Linked DNA regions of Homo sapiens. The protein of the gene in region 2 purifies or fractionates together with the protein of the main gene of each other region. This does not show direct contact. Each region holds a gene or a part of one and is shown on either strand. Other genes may lie near its edges.

Region 1 (3,748 bases), on a different chromosome or scaffold from region 2:
ACAGGCATCAGCCACTGCGCCTGGCCTTACAACACATTTCTTTTCTTTTTCTTTTCTTTTTTTTTTTTTTTTTGAGACAGAGTTTCGCTCTTGTTGCCCAGGCTGGAGTGCAATGGTGTGATCTCGGCTCACTGCAACCTCTGCCTCCCAGGTTCAAGCAATTCTCCTGCCTCAGCCTCTCGAGTAGCTGGGATTACAGGCGCCCACCACCATGCCTGGCTAATTCTTTGTATTTTTAGTAGAGACAGGGTTTCACCATGTTGTCCAGGCTGGTTTCGAACTCCTGACCTCAAGTGATCTGCCCGCCTTGGCCTCCCAAAGTGCTGGGATTACAGGCATGAGCCATCACACCTGGCCTTATAATGCATTTCATAGCTAATGCAGATGCTATAGCTCCCCTACAATTAATTGTGTTGACAGCAGAAATTTATTTTTGGATTATTTTAGTTTGGTTCGCTCAGGCCATGTTTGCTAGGATAGATAACAGCTAATTGAATGGGGGTACAGTGAAAACCACCTTGAGCTTCATGTCAAAAAACCCGAGTTTGCCTGTGAAACCTGTGAAATGGGAGAAGTGAAAAAATTAAATAAGTAAATAAATAAAATTTGAGTTTGGATCTGTTAGGATATTAATACTTGTGACCTCAGGCAACTCACTTAGCTTCTCTACCCCTCATTTTCTTCATCTACGAAATTAAAGAGTTGGATTATACAGTTTCTAAAATCCCATCTGGTTCTAAATCCTTAGACTCCTTAGACTAAATCGTTAGTGTTTACCAAGCTGTAGAACAAAAGTGGAGGTTTAGAGACAAACCCCAAAGAACAAAAGAACTTGTGTGGGGGTTTGGGGACTAAGACTCCTGGGTCCCAGGCTCAACACTCCACTGACCCATTAGGCAGAACCTTCCCATGCCCAGGTCCAACTGGCCAGTAGCAGGATGATAAGGAAACATTTCAGGGAACATGAGTAGAAATAGAGGAGACCCCTCATTTCAGGGAGCAGCACCTTGACAAGGCAGGAGGATGAGAAGGACCTCTGGAGGGGTCTAAGCTGAGCTGCCCTGAGTCACAGAGATCACAGTGGAGTTTCTCCTGAGACAGGAGTGTCAGCTGAGTGGGAACTGTGTCCCTCATGGGTGGGGTCAGAGGTTACCTTGGCCAGCAGCCGGCGCCCGTCATTATCTAGGATGAAAACAGCCTTGATGGTGTAGAGGGAAGGTTCCTGCAACTGACACCGGAGAGGAGAGTTCCGTTTGGCCCCTGACTCGAGGTGGACACCCTGTGTCTATGGGATCTGCTGGCCCTAGGATACATCCTCAGGCCCCAGCAACCCCAGTCCTCAAGGTCCACAGCTGGTTCTGCCCAGCCCTGTGCCACATGGGCCAACCCAGGTGCCCACTCCACTCCCAGGCAGATGTTCCACTGCAGGCCCCGAGTGGGCGCTGTGCCCGTTGGGTGCAGAAGGTCCTTCCGGGCCCAAGTTCTGTCATGCACTGACTGCTCCAGAGCCCGAGTCGGAGTGTATCACAGAACCTGGGCCGGGGGGGACAGCGGGCCGAGCCTCCTTCTTCCAGCTGATCCCTGGCCGGGCTGGACCTGCGCTATCAGCGCGCCCCCAGGCCCTGGCCCGGGTAGACTCCAGAAGCATGCCCATCACCCACCGGTGATGGGAGCCGAGTCTGGGACGGACAGGCCACTCCTTACCCTCCCCGCGGAATCGCAACTCACCCGCCACCCCCACTCCAAACGGACCCAGAACTTCAGCCCCGCGCCGACGGACTCAGGACAGGCCTCCTCTCCGGTCGGCGCTGGGACGAACTTTTCCTCCCGGGTCCTGGGGCCAGTCAGGGGTGACACAAAGTTCCCAGCCGCCGGGCGCGCGAGTTCTGAGTTGGCTGCTCCCCCTAACCCTGCTCTGTCCCTGCCCAGCTCCCGCCGCCCGGGATCCCCGCGCCCGCCCGCTCCGTACCCGCAGCCCCGAGGGCTCCCCGGCTCGAGCAGGCGGCGCCGGGCCCCCGGCCTGGGCCGCCGCGGCCCCCTCCCCCGGGTGCGGACGTGGCCAGGCCTCGGGCCGCTGCATTCCGCTCGCCGCCTCGCACTGACAGCGCCGCCCGCCGCCTGCCCGCCGCCGCCGCCCCGCCTCCGCGCCGCCCCGCGGCCCCCTCTCGCGCGTGGCCTCCCTTTCCTCGGGGCCCCGTCCTCTTGCTCGTTCTCCCCCATCTCCCCTCCCGCCCTCACCCCACCTCTCCTTCCCCCACTTCTCCTCTCCCTCTCTCCTCCTTGGCTCCTTCCCGAGTCCCTTACATCCCCGAACTCTGCATCCTCAGGGTGCCCCAAGACCAGCCCTCGTCCTGCTTCCTGCCTGCTCTCCGGCCTGTGGCTTTGGTGTGCGCCAGTGTCTATAGGCTGTCCTGGGGCCAGCAGCAAACACAAGCAAAGCCCACTTTTGTCTGTTGACCTCTGGTAGGTACCATGAGGACAAATACGTCAGGTCACCCTTTAGATCTCAGGGACAGGGTCTATAAGCAAGAGCAAATGAGGACAGTTCTGGGGACACCCCTCTGTGAAGAGGCTTTCTCATTCCTCTCTCACTACTTGCAGAAGGCAACCATGGGCCCGGAGACACCTCCCCAGGCTCTCCTAAGTCACAGATATGGCACCATCAGAAGCAAGACAGACGCCCAGCAGCACAAATGCTCCACCAATGACATCGGGCTTTGCAGCATGTTTTGGTTTCTTTGGTCTAAGTCTAACTAAGACAAGCTCTCATTTCAGGGTACACTGGCAAGTGGGAAATTCACATCCCAGTGATATGTTAGTGCTACGTATGCATTTACCGGTAAAAACACTGTGCGTGTATTTTACATTTGACACCTTCACATCCATTATCTAATATAGCCCACACCTGTAAGATAGGCATAATGGACCCTCATTTTAAGCAAAGAGAGACTCAGAGGTTGTGTGACCTTTTCAAGACTATACAGCTAGTTGACTGGGGATAGAACCCAGATTTTTGACTCAAAATTTCTTCCCTATTCTTCTCTTCAAGCCCTCTTATGTTGTGGACCACAGTCACTTACCCTAGATGGTTACAGAATGGGGTTTTCCTCACTGAATGCATCAAGTCTTCTTATCTTCAAGCCTCTGCTGAAATATAATTACCAAAAGGTCCTCCTGACAGCCACCATATCTGACTTGATAGGTCTCTCCTGTCACATTCTCTCAGTTCCTATTTCTTTCTTTCATTGCACTTTTTTCAATCTCTAAATATTATTTTTACTAATATTGCTTGTTTGAGACACGGTCTCACTCTGTTGCCCAGGCTGGAGTGCAGTGACTCGATCTGGGCTCACTGCAGCCTCAACCTCCTGGGCTCAGGCAATCCTCCCATCTCAGTCTCCCGAGTAGCTGGGACCACTGGTGCATGCAACCACTCCCAGGTAATTTTTTATTTTTTTATTTTTTTTATTTTTGTAGAAACAAGGTCTCAAGTCTGGGCTCAATGGCTCACATCTGTAATCCCAGCACTTTGGGAGGCTGAGGTGGGCAGAAGGCTTGAGCCCAGGAGTTCCAGACCAGCCTGGGCAACATGGTAAGATCTAGTCTCTACTAAAACTACAAAGAAATTAGCCAGGTAGGGTGGTGTGACCTGTAGTCCCAGCTACTCAGAAGGCTGAGGTGGGAGAATCACCCGAGTCTGGGGGTTCAAGGCTGCAGAGCCATGATCATGCCACTGTGCTCCAGCCTG
Region 2 (3,648 bases):
AACTTGCCACTCTTGCTCAGCTCTCGGGCTTCAGGGTCATCATTCCAGCGCCGCTTCAACCGAAGCTTGGGGGGCATCAGTGCATCTTCTTTCTTCTCAGGTGCACTGGGCTCTTTGCCAGGCCTATCCTCACTGTCTTCAGTCACCTCCAGAGGTTCTCCACTTGGGGTGCTAATGGGCACAGAGGGCCAGATGGGTGGTGCAGCAGGACGGGCAAAGATGGTGCCTTTTTCCTCTTCAATGGTCCTGCTTGGCACAGTGCCCTCTTCTTGAGTGTGCTCCTCCTTCTCTCGTGCCGACTGCCTGAGGCTCTCAGGATCCTTTTCAGAGGCAGGTTCCACCTTGATTCTTGGGGGAATAGAAGCCATGGTGGGCGTGGTGACTGGTGCTGACTCCTCGCTGCTCTCAACCCTCTCCCGGTTCTTCCGCCCAACTGGTGGGGGCTGCAGCTTGATGGAGAACTGAGTTGACTCCTCAGGATGCATTTGGCACTGCAGTGGTGGAACCATGAGCCCTGGGTAACGGGGAAAAGTCCGAGGACTCAGATGGTAGTTGAACACAGAACAAGCTTGAGAATGAAGGTAGTGTTTCATTTCCTCAGGGTTGAAGGAGAAGCAGCTGCTGCTGGTGAAAGGGCTCAGGCCTGGTGATGGGCTATAGGAGAAGATGGTGGGAGTCAGGGAGAGGGCTGGTGAAATGGGGACATTAAGGACACCTCCGCGGCCAGGGATTGGAGAGACAGCGAAGGGACTGTGGGGGTCAGGGTACATCCCTGGCCTAGCAAACAGAGGAAGCATTATGTCAGGCTTGCGTTTCTGATGGCCAATCCCTCCTCCACCAATGGCATTCCTGGAGGACACGGGATCCACACCCCGGCGCCAGTCAGCAGCTGAGCCATCCTCCAGCTCTGAAAGCTCAGTCTTTCTATCAGTACCATTACTGGACTCCTGGCCAGAAGCAGTTAGGGAGCTAGCAGAGAACCGTCCCGGCTGCACATCATTGGTTGGAGAATGGGTGTCCAGAGGTGGGAAATGGAACCGGGAAGAGGCTGTTGGCACTGGTGGTGCACTCTGAGGAACCACACCTGTGATGGTGGAAAATACAAAAGCCTGCATCAGAGGACTGCTCATTCATTATCATCACTTATGCTAACTAAGTGCAAAATATTTAGTAGTAACAGGAAACAATCATTCCAACTGGACTGAATCCCACAGTTCTCCAACTTCCTAGTAACTACTGCTCAGCTGCTTCTACTCAACTTGTCATCCTTCTCTAGGCTCTTCACTGTCTTCACAGTACTCCTTACTGTCAAAAACATTGTAATTGCTTATCCATATTCTACAACCTAAATTCCACATGGCAGGGACTTCCTATTGTTCACAACTGTACACCTCACAGTTCAGGGCTTAACGGTTGTGTACTTCCTGTACACAATAAATATTAAGTGGAATGAATGAATGGGTACAAGAGCCTTCTCCTCTGCAACTCTAAATATTGTGTATATATTACCTGTTTCAATTTTTAGCTCTGCAAATAGTCTTATTTCCATAATTTTGGCCATATATATATATTCGTGTGTGTGTGTGACGAGGTAGAGGTTTACTGAAATATAAACATTCGAGAACATTTAAGATAGAAAATAATAACAACATATAGATAGTTGCTACAAGAGGACATCTGATGTTTACTCACTGCCTAGACTACCCACATGCTATCCCATTTTTCCTTGTTGGAATACAGATATATTTCGAGATGGGATATGGGGAGGGACAGAGCTGCCCTGGCTGACTGTAGGGAGGGGCAGAGCTGCTCTGGCTGACTGTGCGGAGGGGCAGAGCTGCCCTGGCTGACTGTGCGGAGGGGCAGAGCTGCCCTGGCTGACTGTGCGGAGGGACAGAGCTGCCCTGGCTGACTGTAGGGAGGGACAGAGCTGCCCTGGCTGACTGTAGGGAGGGGAAGAGCTGCCCTGGCTGACTGTGGGGAGGGACAGAGCTGCCCTGGCTGACTGTGGGGAGGGGCAGAGCTGCCCTGGCTGACTGTGGGGAGGGACAGAGCTGCCCTGGCTGACTGTGGGGAGGGACAGAGCTGCCCTGGCTGACTGTGGGGAGGGGCAGAGCTGCCCTGGCTGACTGTGGGGAGGGGCATAGCTGCCCTGGCTGACTGCACCTCCAGAGAAGCTCTGCTTGGGCCAAGGCCCCATTCCTGGATGCACCGCTTCGCCGCATATAAAAAGCAAACAAACCAAACCAAAAAACAAATCAACAAAACTGGAAATGACATGCATGGAAAGTAATGCATTAAAAACTCAAAGATAAAACTCAAAGACCCTATACCTCACATACACTGACCATGTTTTAGTAAAAACAGTTTAATTTTTAAAAAGGCTACACATTTGTTAAGTTCTTATTACCAAGTGTTTTATCATTCCTGATATACAATCACTGCTTCACAGAGATTCAAATATTTTTCAATCTCTCCAAATCTATATTCCTCTAACAAATTCTACTGAATGATCTCCATCTCCAACCTGCTTTCAAACATTAAGGAGGCTGGGAGAAAATCCAGGACCTACTATTCCTTCTTCCAAGTTTGCTTACTAAAATGTAAAGCTCTAAGTGATAACATACACTGTGCTACTTATGTCAACTTTTTTTTTTTTTTTTTTTTTGAGACAGGGTTTCACTCTGTTGCCCAGGCTGGAGTGCAGTGGCACCATCTTGGCTCAATGCAACCTCCACCTCCTGGGTTCAAGTGATTCTTGTGCCTCAGCTTCTGGAGTAGCTGGGATTACAGGTGTGTGCTACCATGCCCGGCTAATTTTTGTTATTTTTAGTAGAGACTGGGTTTCACCATGTTGGCCAGGCTGATCTCGAACTCCTGGCCTCAAACGATAAACTTGCTTCAGCCTCCCAAAGTGCTGGGATTACAGGTGTGAGCCACTGCGCCCAGCCCATCAACTTTAGTGGCTCACAGTTCTCAACTTCCCCAGTGATCCTCCTGATAAGACATGAAAAAGGTATGCCATCTGAAGTCTCAGGGACCTGTGGGTTCCTCGGAGGTGTCAGCAGTTTCTATAATAATGTCAGCAGGGTTCTCAGGCAAAGGTGAAGAAAGAACAAAGGAGAAGAAAAAAATAGAAAAAAACAAAATTTTAAGTATAGTGATCTAGGAGTGGAAACAAAAAAGGTACACAGATATGGGATGGTTATGAATTGCTCCCAATCAGCTGGTGCCTTCTCCTCTTGGTCTAGCAGACTCTGGAGTCTGCTGGTATTCGTAAGACTGTAGCTTTCTGGGTGCATGGGACTGAGTAACACTATGCCAGAGCCTCATTTCCCAAACTAATGTTCCACAGAAAACTGTTCTGCAGGACTTTTTTTTTTTTAAGCCACTGATTTAGAGAGCAGGACGTCTGGCTTCCGAGCAGGAACCTTCATATTGCCAGTGATGAAAGAGAGAATTAAATACGGGTGATATTGAGAAAGGCAAGAAGATTTGTGTTCAGAAGTGTGCCCAGTGCCACACTGTGGAAAAGGGAGGCAAGCACGAGACTGGGCCTAATCTCCATGTCTCTTTGGGTGGAAGACAGGTCAGGCCACTGGATTCTCTTACACAGATGCCAATAAGAACAAAGGCATTACCTGGGGA

The links.
Region 1: the proteins of ETV3 (region 2) and COPZ2 purify together in Homo sapiens (affinity purification with mass spectrometry; one large-scale study listed by BioGRID and IntAct). This does not show direct contact.

What each region holds. Positions count from the first base shown.
Region 1 is NC_000017.11:48,035,698-48,039,445, forward strand, and holds the start of COPZ2 (coatomer subunit zeta-2), read right to left. Parts: upstream 2,101-3,748; 5' UTR 2,081-2,100; coding exon 1,970-2,080; intron 1,551-1,969; exon of another isoform or gene 1,464-1,550; intron 1,229-1,463; coding exon 1,154-1,228; intron 1-1,153. UniProt on the Homo sapiens protein: The coatomer is a cytosolic protein complex that binds to dilysine motifs and reversibly associates with Golgi non-clathrin-coated vesicles, which further mediate biosynthetic protein transport from the ER, via the Golgi up to the trans Golgi network.
Region 2 is NC_000001.11:157,124,896-157,128,543, forward strand, and holds part of ETV3 (ETS translocation variant 3), read right to left. Parts: exon of another isoform or gene 3,467-3,648; intron 1,085-3,466; coding exon 1-1,084. UniProt on the Homo sapiens protein: Transcriptional repressor that contribute to growth arrest during terminal macrophage differentiation by repressing target genes involved in Ras-dependent proliferation. Represses MMP1 promoter activity.